3 separate regions of the Homo sapiens genome follow, and all the other regions are linked to region 3. The links come from fine-mapping of genetic effects on gene expression. A gene starts in region 3. Each other region holds a variant in brackets. All regions are shown on one strand. Distances are between the middles of the regions.

Region 1 (4,241 bases), 61 kb after region 3:
TGCAGAAACTGAACAGGAAAACCAAAGGAATCTACAGACCCTTTGAAGGAAGCAGGAGGCTGCAGGTTACACTGTGAATCAGGCAAAGGGCTGTGAGTTCCCAGAGTGTGAGAAGGGGGACTCACCCTACATTACTCCTGGAATACACACCCCCACTGTGGACCCTGAAAGTCCAGACCATGGGAGAAAGCCCTAACCCTATGCAGCACAGGAACTGACTTGGGGAGGGATGTGGAATATAAAAGTGGGAGCAGTGGCAGGAAGATTCTTGCACACACTCCCAGATTTCAGCATGGAGAGAGGGAAGCCATTTCTTACTGTTCCTCACGGGGAACCCTGTGGAGGACAGCCAAAAAGTTCAGGCAGTGGTCGCAGGTTGAAAGAAGCCTCCAACTGGGTTTCATGATATAACCTTAGGTGCGGATGAACTCCCTTGGCCAGGGCCAGGGTGGAGGAGAGTGAAAAGTGGGCTGCAGCCATGAGTGCAGGAGCTGCCAGTGCAGGAACTGGGTGCCTGGCTTTGCAGTGGACAGGGAGGGGCTTGGCCTGAAAGCCGTGATTGCTATCTCTGCAGGGAACGTATATGACTCGGGACAGTTGCAAGTTCTGAGTGCAGGCTAACTGGAACTTAGCTTGCTGCTGCCAGTGGAACACTGTGGGAGTGCATCTGTCTTGCCAAGTGCATGGGATCTGTGTGGGGCTCACAGCCACCTGCTTCTCCTCACTCTGCACAAACCCTTCTGTGTGGCAAAGCCAGCAACACTGCCTTTTGGAACATCAACCCAGTGGCCTGAGAACCACTCCCATCCCCTGGCTTCCACAGGGGCTGCTGCTTGCCCTGCACAGGGAGACTCAGAGCGCAAGCCCACCTGAACCAACCCTCACCCTGCTTTGCCCCGTCACCTGCCCTGGTAGTTTAACACAAAGGACAGAAACTCTTGGGGGCTATATAGCCCCACTCATTGCCTGAGAAACCAGAGTAACCCCTCTGGACAACATAAAGCAAGCAAAAGTCCTATTGCTACTATTGCAGCTGGTTCCCTTTTGTAAGCATCACCTCTTGGCTGGAGGCCAACCAACACAGTCCATTACAGCATCTCCTGGTAGAATAACAACGCACCTAGGAAGAAGATGGCTGTGTAATCTCAGCTATCACCACTGCCTGCACCATTCTGGCTAACCAGGAGGTCCTGAGTTTGTCCACATGACCAGTTCATTACTACTAAAACCAGTGTTCGAGAAAGCCAACACACTAAGGCTATCAATAACCAAGGACTCTCACAGAGTCTATTACCCTGCCACGCCCATTAGAACTGGTGCTGCTACCCACTGTTGGGAGACTTGAAGAGAGGTCACATCACTGGATCCCTTGCAGATATTCCCTAGCACCAGCCTGGGGTGTGGTACCTTCACTGGACAGCTAGACCCAGAGACCCTGTTCCCTTAGGAGTGGGATCCCCCTGATCCTAGGGGAACAGGGAGTGCACCACATCAAGAGAACACCCTGTGGGAGAAAATAATCCAGACAGCAGGACTTAAGAACCAGATCTTTCTGCTAGTGGGAAGTTTCTTTCAGCAGAGGCACAGTTGCAGTGCTGGGCTCAGCAGGAAAAGTCTTCAGCTCTAACCCAACAGACAGACAACCCCCCCACCCATTGTCTACCACTGCAGGCACAGTTGGAGCTTCTCCCATTGGAGCTTGGTGTGAGTGCAACTATAGACAGTCTTTCTGGAAGACATCAGGGTGACTGCATCCCCATAGGAGGGGCACCCTCTAGGTTCAAGCTTGTATGAGAGACGTTCACAATTTTTCTCTATTTGGAACATCAAAATTCCTGCAGATGAAAAGAGGTGGCTGTCTGGAGATGAAAAGCTGGAGCACTGAAACAGGAGTGTGTTTGAGAGGGATAACTTTCCTGCTAACCTGGCAGGGGAGCTGAGGTGGCTCCAACCCTTACCCCAGGTAAGACCTCATTGCAACTCACTCCTCCAGCCACCTCTGTCAAGGCTGAGACCTCTGCCCATCACTGGGTATTGCATTTACCCACCTGCTTTAGCCACAGCTGATTCCTACCCAGGGACACCTCCCCTACTGGCCTGAAGCTGGAACCATCAAACTAGTAAATAAAACACTGGAGAAAAGGCCGGGTGCAGTGGCTCATGCCTGTAATCCCAAAACTTTGGGAGGCTGAGGCGGGTGGATCACTTGAGGTCAGGGGTTCGAGACCAGCCCGGCCAATATGGTGAAACCCTGTCTCTACTAAAAATACAAAAATTAGTTGGGTGTGGTGGCAGGCACCTGTAATCCCAGCTACTTGGGAGGCTGAGGCACAAGAATCACTTGAACCCAGGAGGCGGAGATTGCAGTGAGATCATGACACTGCACTCCAGCCTGGGCAACAGAGTGAGATTCAGCCT[C/A]AAAAAAAAAAAAGAAAAAAAAAACTGGACGAAAATGCGTAAATAAAAAAGGGCATGCCACAGGGGAATGAGATAAGCTTTAAGAGACCTCTTATCATTACAGCCCCATAGGAGACAGTGATCTTGCTAATATACCAAGCACATTGCTACTACAACCAGCATCTAAGAAAGCCACATAAAAAAACTCTCTATAACCAAGGAACTATTACAGAGTCTTCACCCCTGAAAGCACCAAAAACCAAATTAGGCCATAATATGATAAGCATTAAAGTCACATCCTTAAGTGGAAAAAAGAAATTAAAAAACAAACACAAAAAGAAACACAGTCAAATCAAACATCAATTCAAGGATAATTAGAAGAAATAATCTACCCAAATGAGGAGGAACCAGAAAAGGAACTCTGGTAATATGAAAAAACAGGGTTCTATAACACCCTCAAAAGATAACACTAGCTCTCCAGCAATGGATCCAAAGTAGGACGAACTCTTTAAAATACCAGATAAGGAATTCAGAAGGTCAATTATTAAGCTACTCAAGGAGATTTCAGAGAAAGATGAAAACTATTATAAATTTAAAAAGCATTTCAGGATATGAATGAAAAATTTTCTAGAGATATAGATATTATCAAGAAAAAACAATAAGAATTTCTAGAAATGAAAGACACACTTAGGGAATACAAAATGCAGCAGAAAGCTTTAACAATAGACTAGAACAAGTAGAAGAAAGAATTTCAGAGCTTGAAGACAAGGTTTTTAAACTAACCCAATCAGACAAAAATAAAGAAAAAAGAATAAAAAGAAATGAACAAAGTCTTCAAGAAATATGGGATTATGTTAAACAGCCAAACCTAAGAATAACTGGTGTTCCAGAGGAAGAAGAGAAAATAACAAGTCTGGAAAACTTATTTCAGGGAATAATTGAGGAAAACCTTTCTGGCGTGGCTAGAGATCTAGATATCCAAATCCAAGAAGCTCAAAGAACTCCTGGGAAATTAATTGCAAAAAGATCTTCACCAAGGCATATAGTCATCAGGCTATCTAAACTCAACATGAAGGAAATAATTCTAAGAGCAGTAAGACAAAAGCATCAGGTAAGCTATAAAGGAAAACCTATCTGAATAACAGCAGACTTCTCAGCAGAAACCTTACAAGCCAGAAGGTATTGGGGTCTTATCTTCAATCTCCTTAAACAGAAAAAAACTGTCAGCCAAGAATTCTGTATCCTGTAAAGCTAGGTTTTGTAATTGAAGGAGAAATAAAAGTCATTTTCAGATAAACAAATGCTGAGGGAATTTGTCACTAGCAAACCAAACTACAAGAAATGCTACCAGCCTGGCCACATGGCAAAACCCTGTCTTTACTAAAAAATACAAAAATTAGCCAGGTGTGATTGTGCATGCTTGTAATCTCAGCTACTTGGGAGGCTGAGGCATGAGAATCTCTTGAACCCAGGAGACAGAGTTTGCAGTGAGCCAAGATTGCAACATTGCACTCCAGCCTGGGCAACAGAGCCAGACTCTATCAAAAAAAAAAAAAAAAAAAGTAAGGAAGGAAGGAAGGAAAGAAAAGAAAGAAAGGTGGGCTAAAAGGAGTTTTAAACATTGAAACAAAAGCCAAATACGCACCAAAATAGAATCTCTTGAAAGCTTAAAACTCATGAAGTCTATAAAGCAATAACAGAATGAAAAAAGAAAAGCTATATACATAACAATTAACATGATGAAGAGAAGAGTACTTCACATCTCAATATTAATGTTGAATGTAAATGGCCTAAACGCTCCACTTAAAAAATACAGAATGACAGAATGGATAACAAAAATCACA
Region 2 (4,241 bases), 26 kb after region 3:
ACGGGGAGAGGGAGAGGGAGAGGGGTCAAATTCTTATCTATCAATGTTATGCCCACTGTGCTCTCCAGCTGTGGTCTGTGAATTACTGTGGTATAACGTGACTGTTCAAATTTCACTTTTCAGGGGCTTTGACCACGACCTTTGAAGAGCTTCATTTTGAGATCAAGCCCCACGATGACTGCACAGTAGAGCAAATCTATGAGATTTTGAAAATCTACCAACTCATGGACCACAGTAACATGGACTGCTTCATCTGCTGTATCCTCTCCCATGGAGACAAGGGCATCATCTATGGCACTGATGGACAGGAGGCCCCCATCTATGAGCTGACATCTCAGTTCACTGGTTTGAAGTGCCCTTCCCTTGCTGGAAAACCCAAAGTGTTTTTTATTCAGGCTTGTCAGGGGGATAACTACCAGAAAGGTATACCTGTTGAGACTGATTCAGAGGAGCAACCCTATTTAGAAATGGATTTATCATCACCTCAAACGAGATATATCCCGGATGAGGCTGACTTTCTGCTGGGGATGGCCACTGTGAATAACTGTGTTTCCTACCGAAACCCTGCAGAGGGAACCTGGTACATCCAGTCACTTTGCCAGAGCCTGAGAGAGCGATGTCCTCGGTAAGTTTTGCCTACTCAGCCCTCCTCACTGTTACACTACCTTCCCCCCCTACTCCATCACACTACTATCTACTCATATTCAGAGCCTATTAGAAAGTGCTATGTGATTTAGATCACATTAACAGGTCAGAGAACTGTCCAAGGGGAGTGGTTTCCGTTCAACTCTAAATGTCTAGCTGTAGATCACATAGCTGCATTTCCCAGGTCAGTTACAAAGTGGGAGAGTGGCAAGTGTTAACATCCTTAGTTTATAGATGGAAAAGCTGAGATGCTTTATTCCTTTATTCAGCACCTCAAAGGACAATCAGGGTATCACAGAGCAGGAAAGGATAGGAAAGTCATATACTCCAGCTCTCTGTCTTTAGGCCAAAACATGACTGAGCCAATTCAACTAGTTTTGGAAATCTTCCAAGAAGGCAGTAACCCAATTCAATGTTTAAACATCCTCCAACTCTGTCAAAAGTTCTATAATAGCAAACCATCCTCAAAACCTCTTGGTGCATTATGGGAGATAAATAGCAGGTTCCTTCTAGCCCTGTATTTCATGTTTTGAGTATATGAAGAGTGAGAATTTCCCGTAACTTAGATCATGAATCTAACTTAGATTTCGTAACTTAGATCATGAATCCTGCAAGGTTTCCGCGGCTAGCTACCAAGGTAGAAGAAGAGGTTGCCTAACAAAAATGCTAAGAGATCCTGGTGAGAAGAAGGTGGGAGTAGCTGCAGGAGACGTTATACTTTCACTTGCCTTAAGTTTAATTGCATCAAAGATGAATCCGCAGATGCGATGTCAATTCGAGGCAGAGAGTATTGGGGGGCATTGAAGCAATGGGGAGCCAAGTAACGTGGAGAAGAGTGAGAGACACACAGGTCAGGAGAGAAAGAAACCAACTCTAATACTGACACCGAGGTTTCTGATGGTCAAAAGAGTTCCTGAATAAACCAAAAGTAAGTTATTAAGCTCTGAGACAACCCATTTACCAGGAAAGCTGGGGTAGGTCTTGGTTTCGCACCTTATTGTTTCAAATGACTGATATTTTGAGAGAAAGAACTACAGAACTATCTCTGAGCACAGCAGAGGAGACAGTTCATCAGTTGCTTTCCCCCACAGACAGTCACAATATTATGTGATGTATTTCAGAGGCGATGATATTCTCACCATCCTGACTGAAGTGAACTATGAAGTAAGCAACAAGGATGACAAGAAAAACATGGGGAAACAGATGCCTCAGCCTACTTTCACACTAAGAAAAAAACTTGTCTTCCCTTCTGATTGATGGTGCTATTTTGTTTGTTTTGTTTTGTTTTGTTTTTTTGAGACAGAATCTCGCTCTGTCGCCCAGGCTGGAGTGCAGTGGCGTGATCTCGGCTCACCGCAAGCTCCGCCTCCCGGGTTCA[G/C]GCCATTCTCCTGCCTCAGCCTCCCGAGTAGCTGGGACTACAGGGGCCCGCCACCACACCTGGCTAATTTTTTAAAAATATTTTTAGTAGAGACAGGGTTTCACTGTGTTAGCCAGGGTGGTCTTGATCTCCTGACCTCGTGATCCACCCACCTCGGCCTCCCAAAGTGCTGGGATTACAGGCGTGAGCCACCGCGCCTGGCCGATGGTACTATTTAGATATAACACTATGTTTATTTACTAATTTTCTAGATTTTCTACTTTATTAATTGTTTTGCACTTTTTTATAAGAGCTAAAGTTAAATAGGATATTAACAACAATAACACTGTCTCCTTTCTCTTATGCTTAAGGCTTTGGGAATGTTTTTAGCTGGTGGCAATAAATACCAGACACGTACAAAATCCAGCTATGAATATAGAGGGCTTATGATTCAGATTGTTATCTATCAACTATAAGCCCACTGTTAATATTCTATTAACTTTAATTCTCTTTCAAAGCTAAATTCCACACTACCACATTAAAAAAATTAGAAAGTAGCCACGTATGGTGGCTCATGTCTATAATCCCAGCACTTTGGGAGGTTGAGGTGGGAGGATTGCTTGAACCCAAGAGGTCAAGGCTGCAGTGAGCCATGTTCACACCGCTGCACTCAAGCTTGGGTGACAGAACAAGACCCCGTCTCAAAAAAAATTTTTTTTTTAATAAAACAAAATTTGTTTGAAATCTTTTAAAAATTCAAATGATTTTTACAAGTTTTAAATAAGCTCTCCCCAAACTTGCTTTATGCCTTCTTATTGCTTTTATGATATATATATGCTTGGCTAACTATATTTGCTTTTTGCTAACAATGCTCTGGGGTCTTTTTATGCATTTGCATTTGCTCTTTCATCTCTGCTTGGATTATTTTAAATCATTAGGAATTAAGTTATCTTTAAAATTTAAGTATCTTTTTTCAAAAACATTTTTTAATAGAATAAAATATAATTTGATCTTATTGCTCCTTGGAGATTTTTTGTGTTTGGTTTTGGTTTCTGCCAATGACATCTCACAGGTGGAAAACATCTGGACTACAGACATGTTCTACTTGAGTCTCCCATGATCGGCACACACAGTTGTATTTTTAAAATTTGTTGTCAATGTTTAAAAATTAGGAGATATCACATAAAAACCAGAATAACTTCTTTTAAAAAATCATACTATCTGACAATATTGACCTCATGCTTTTGCATGGCAAAGGTCTGAGAAGCACCTTCTTCAGATGGGACAGTGCTCTGTGGGTCACTCTTCCCCATCCGCTGTGCCCCAGCCCTGCCCAAGCCCCTCTACTGAGGCTGCTGTTGGTTGCCACTTATCACTGTGCTTGGGCAATTGTTTTCCTTATGTCTAGCCCACTTCACTTATTTATGTTGCCTGCACTGTGGGTGTCTGAATTCTGGTGATGGTCCAGAGGAGGTGGTAAGAATCATCAGAAACCCTTCCTAAGTCATAGGTTAGGGAACATGATTGAGAGGTAGGGAAGTAGGGGGCATGGGTGTGAGAGAAAAATATTTTAGAGTAAAATCAACACATCATCTTTTTTTGCTACCTAAATGCCCCAGGGGACAAAGGTACACCTCCCAAATATAGTAAAAGTTCAATATGAAGAAGGCCTTCAAATCAGTTTCTTTCTAACGAAATACGTCAAGGTAGAAGAAAAATAGTACAAAACTCAGAGAAAGCTCAGCTCCCAGTATGGAGAGCATCATTTTTCAGTGAAGAGTCCGTGATAAGCTGTGAAATTCAGATGCGAATTCAAACATTTTCAGACATTCAGAGAGTCAGAGCAACCCAAGAACTAAACTCATTATATGCATTTTCTCAAGAAAACCCTCCCAGGAGTTTCCTGGGCCTACAGAAATGGTGTGCCAACCATCTTCAACAATGCAGAGCAACTTTTTGTTTATGATTCTTGTCCTTTCTTGCTACCATCTTGCACAGTGTCAGAATCATCCTTAGAAACAGTAATAGAGGCCAATCTCCCAGAACATCCTTCACAAATTTCTTCATTCTTAGAAATTATCTTTTGCCTGTAAAAAGAAAGGAAAGATGTATCAATGTCAACTCAAAAGCTAGAAAGGGTATAGGATATTTGGAGTGCAGGGAGAGAAATGTGCCTTCGTTCCTTCACCACAGCAGTCTCTCACTCATTACTTGCAGTGGTTTTGAATTTAGTGAGGTA
Region 3 (4,241 bases):
CCCCACCCTTGCCCTCCTGCCCTCTCTCTTGTTCCCCAAAGACAGTTCTCTAATGTTTTGATGTGGATTCGTGAATTTATCTGTATCTTTGCAAAATGTATTTTTCTTTTGTATGTGTACACTGTTTTTTAACTATGCGATCTCAGGCAAGTAATTCCTCTGTGCCTCTGTTATCTCATCATTAAATGATTAATAATGCCTCCAGAGGTGACTGTGAGGCTTGAAGGAGATAATACGCATACATCACTTACTACACGAGTTAGCAATTATTATTGCATATTAATACTATTGGTATTTTATTTTGCTCATTCTGTTTCTATTTCTTTTTTATTTATTTATTTTTTGAGACAAAGTCTTGCTCTGTCACCCAGGCTGCAGTGCAGTGGTGCAATCACGGCTCACTGCAGCCTCAACATCCTGGGATCAAGCAATTTTCCCATCTCAGCCTTCAGATTAGCTGGGACCACAGGCGCGTGCTACCACACCTGGCTAATTAAAAAATTTTTCTTCATAGAGATGGTGTCTCATTTTGTTGCCCAGGCTGGTCTCAAACTCCTATGCTCAAGGGATCCTCCCACCTTGGCCTCTCAAAGTGCTAGGATTACATGCATGAGCCACGGTGGCCATCCAGGCATTGATATTATGAGGCCATCTTGACCTAGCCCTCTCTGGTGAAGAGTCCTTTTCAGATACTTCGTTCAGTCTTCTCAGCTATGAGTCCCTACCCTCTGAAAGCTTATATTCTATTTGGGGAAAGACAAAAGGCAGTTTCAAAGAAGAGAGGTGTTTGATTTTCTTTTCCTACTTTTAATATCAGAAAACATTTCATCTAACTCTCAGTATGAAGGCAATATTTTGTTTACTGGTATATCCCTAGAGCCCAACATGGTGAGGGCCCCAGGATTTGCTTCTTTGATAAGATGGTAAACCCAGCTTTCAGCTAACTTCATGGTTTCCTCAGCTACACTCATATACAAGGATCACCTTTGGTAAGATGGACTTACCATCTTACCAAAGAGTTTTTGCATTTTAGAGTTTTTTCTTTTTAGATTTTTTTCATTTTAGAATTTTTTTATTTCAGAGTTTTTTCTTTTTAGAGGTTTTTCATTTTAGAGTTTTTTCTTTTTAGAGTTTTTTTTTTTTTTTAATTTTAGAGTATTTTAGGCTGCTGAGGGTGGAATCTGGTGACCTTGGGGCCACAGAGATGCTCCTTGGCTAAACCAGGGGCTTTAGCTCTGAAAGTTCACAGCCACCCTGAGAACCAAGATGAGAGGGCTCTGCAGTGTCCAATCTCAAGACCTCTCTGAGGTGCTCCATCAAGATTCATTGAATGAAAAAATTAAAGTCTTAATGATGAACCCAGAAAAATCTTTAAATCCTAAATATGAAATGAAAGTGTTCTTAGTTACAATCCAGTCCAACGTCCTTGTTTTGGAATGTGGAAATGAGGCCCCAAAGGTAAAATGGCCCATCCAAAGTCACAGCCAGGGGCCAGTGCTCAGGTGGCCAGGTGCCCTGCGTGCGGTCTCCTGGACCACCAGGCCTTTTTCCTGCAGCTTTAGAAGCTTTAGAAGGCACTCTGCTCACTCAGGGGCAAGTGGTAAGCGCTCTTTCCCCTCTAGTGTTTGTGACTCAGGAGTTTCGAAACAGGAAGTAGAGCTGGCTGGCTGTGCCCTTCCGTCCTTCATTAGACGTTTGCTCTTGTCTTAGATGCTCAGATGGTAGTGGATAGGCCTGTGACGAAGGTGCTACCATCGTGAGAGTAAGGTAAGGATTTGCCTCTTTGTTAAGGTCAGAGGGGCCTTTTGGGAGGAAGGCCTTTGATTCTGGAGTTTTCTAGGCTGCTGAGAGTGAGATCGGGTGGCCCTGGGGCCATGGAGGTGATCCTCGTATGTGAGTGTGGATGGGGAAACCATGAAGTTAGTGTAAGAGGTAGCAGTCCCTCTGAGAGCCTTGCCGAGGGCCGTGCAGTTTCCAGATCTGAAGGCCATTCTAGCTTAGACTGATGAAGTCCTAGGAGCTTCTGAAATGCTGCAAGTTTAACTACTTGTATAAAGGCCTCATCCTGATCCCAGTCAAACTTGTGAAATAATAGAAGCCAAAATTTAAATCTCTACTGACTTTGCTGCTACAGCTATCCTCCCACCAACACACATACCCACCAACATACACACTTGCCAACATAAACGCACACACACATACACACAAACACACCCATGTGGTCCTACTAATTCAATTATTTATTTTTTAAAGAAATTAAAAAAGACTGGGCGTGGTGGCTCTCGCCTGTCATCCCAGCACTTTGGGAGGTCGAGGCGGTGGTTCACCTGAGGTCGGGAGTTTGAGACCAGCTTGACCAACATGAAGAAACCCCGTCTCTACTAAAAATACAAAATTAGCCGGGCATGATGGCGCATGCCTGTAATCCCAGCTACTCGGGAGGCTGAGGCAGGAGAATCGCTTGAACCTGGGAGGTGGAAGTTGTGGTGAGCCGAGATCGTGCCACTGCACTCCAGCCTGGGCAACAAGAGCGAAACTCCGTCTCAAAAAAAAAAAAAAAAAAAAATTAAAAAGATACAGAACAGTTCAAAAAACAATATAATGGGAAGACTAGATAGACACAATCAGAGACCTGCACTTGTGGGGTTAAGAATTTACAGGTGAAGTTGCAAGTTTCATTCTGTTTGAAAATGATGGGATTATATGTTTTGCTGAGGTTTGGACACCTTTGCTGGGTTGTTTGAATGCCGTGGCTGCAGCGCCCTGTTATGGACATCATGTGCGTGCAGAATGGATGTCTGTCAGGTTCCGGGGCAGCCCGCAGTCTGAGGCAGCCAGCCTGGATTGGAGGGAGTGGCAATACTACCTGCCGGTTAGGGGTTTGGGCCTGAGAGCGAGTGGCTTTCAGGTTCTCTCAAGCTTCGGATGAGATGCAGGTTTCTGCTTCCGATGGCAAATGCATGTTTTGCTTTTTAGTTATCACTGCAAGAGCTAGGATGCTGCTAGAATATTACTGGAATGATTGTGATGAGATGGAATGTATTTACAGTTTAATTGTGACATGTAATACAGTGGTAGAATGGGACTCTGGAATGAGATGCTGGGGCCTAGATTCTAGCACTTCCTTTGTGAGGCTCTAACCCCCTCTCCTATAGTGGATTTGTTAAGAACTTCTGTTTTTGTGGCTTTGTTATTATAAAATTTTTTGAAATGTTGTTCTCTAAAAAAGTTATGATTTTATGTTTTTCTTCATGAGATTCTTTCACTGCCTTCCAGCTGCAAGTAGAATGACGTCTAAATCTTTGTGATCTGTCACTGAAGCCCTTGAGTGAGACACTTAAATCTGGCTGTGGCTCTCTCTCTTACTAGCTTATTTCCAAGCCGTGATTTTTCACAACAGAAAAATGGGGACAGTAATAGTAGTTTCTTCAGAGGCTTTTAGTGAAATGAGGTTAAAAAATATTTTTATGTTTATATGGATATATAGATTACAAACATTTATATATCATTTATTTATATGATTATTATAAACACATATTTATATTTAAATACTTTGGGGCATAAATATATAAAATAATAAATATACTTATGTAATACAAATAGACTTATATACATTTACTATTTAGCAGAGATTATATAAAATATATGTATTACATGGCAACATATTCAAATTTACATATGTTATATATACATGTGGAAAAAAAATTGGGAAAAGGCCACAAAATGTGACCAAAGAATTACTTCCAAATGGCAAGTTTTTAAGTAATTTTTATTTTCTTTTTATACTTCTCTGTACTTTCTCTATGAAACAAGTGTTACTTTTACTGTTTTTAGGAACCAAAAATACAAGTACATTGTTTAAAAAATACTAGCTTAACAAAGTTTCTAGCCCATAAGCTAGTGCAGAAAATCTAGGTCCCATAAAACAAGAACTGCCACACGATGTCTCTCCCCTTACAGTGCTGGATGGCCCGTTGTTAATGGTGTCATAAATCCTTTGCAAGTGACTGTTTTCTAGGTACTATGACTAGAGGGATGTGTAACTTAAGCAAAAAACAAAAAACAGAAAAGGCTGACTATCATCTGACAGTGTATCCTGGAACACCTAGGCCAGAGAAGAAGCCACGTTAGCATTTTCCCTTCTAAATGTCAGTTATGATTTGATGGGGAAACCACTTAAAAAGCATTGTCACGTTGTTGAAAAGGTAATGAAATGAGTGAGATGAGATGGCTATGGAGGA

Alleles and levels. Alleles are on the strand shown, and positions count from the first base shown. SD is a standard deviation of normalised expression in the study named. Not every link is listed here.
For the expression in prefrontal cortex of the gene that starts at base 1,690 in region 3, allele C in region 1 goes with a higher level than allele A (large effect, 1.0 SD a copy in BrainSeq).

Evidence for each region. PIP is the estimated chance that this variant, and not a neighbour inherited with it, causes the effect.
Region 1: its variant is the best candidate, but not a certain one, in a credible set for the expression of CASP8 in prefrontal cortex (BrainSeq, PIP 0.71).
Region 2: its variant is the best candidate, but not a certain one, in a credible set for the expression of CASP8 in whole blood (GTEx, PIP 0.58).

The regions. Positions count from the first base shown.
Region 1 is chr2:201,319,845-201,324,085 of GRCh38, forward strand. The region is part of intron 9 of FLACC1 (flagellum associated containing coiled-coil domains 1); the gene reads right to left. Among named protein-coding and RNA genes, the nearest start is that of FLACC1, 35 kb to the right of the region's middle. RefSeq lists enhancers at 116-617, 618-1,117. The variant C/A (reference allele first, on the strand shown) is at 2,419.
Region 2 is chr2:201,284,693-201,288,933 of GRCh38, forward strand. CASP8 (caspase 8) reads left to right here. Exons shown (of 9, transcript NM_001372051.1): 8 at 124-625; 9 at 1,767-3,017. The coding sequence ends at 1,902. FLACC1 (flagellum associated containing coiled-coil domains 1) reads right to left here. Exons shown (of 15, transcript NM_001127391.3): 15 at 3,579-4,089. The coding sequence ends at 3,963. Among named protein-coding and RNA genes, the nearest start is that of CASP8, 26 kb to the left of the region's middle. RefSeq lists an enhancer at 3,738-3,882 and a cis regulatory region at 3,810. The variant G/C (reference allele first, on the strand shown) is at 2,024.
Region 3 is chr2:201,258,847-201,263,087 of GRCh38, forward strand. CASP8 (caspase 8) reads left to right here and starts at 1,690. Exons shown (of 9, transcript NM_001372051.1): 1 at 1,690-1,767.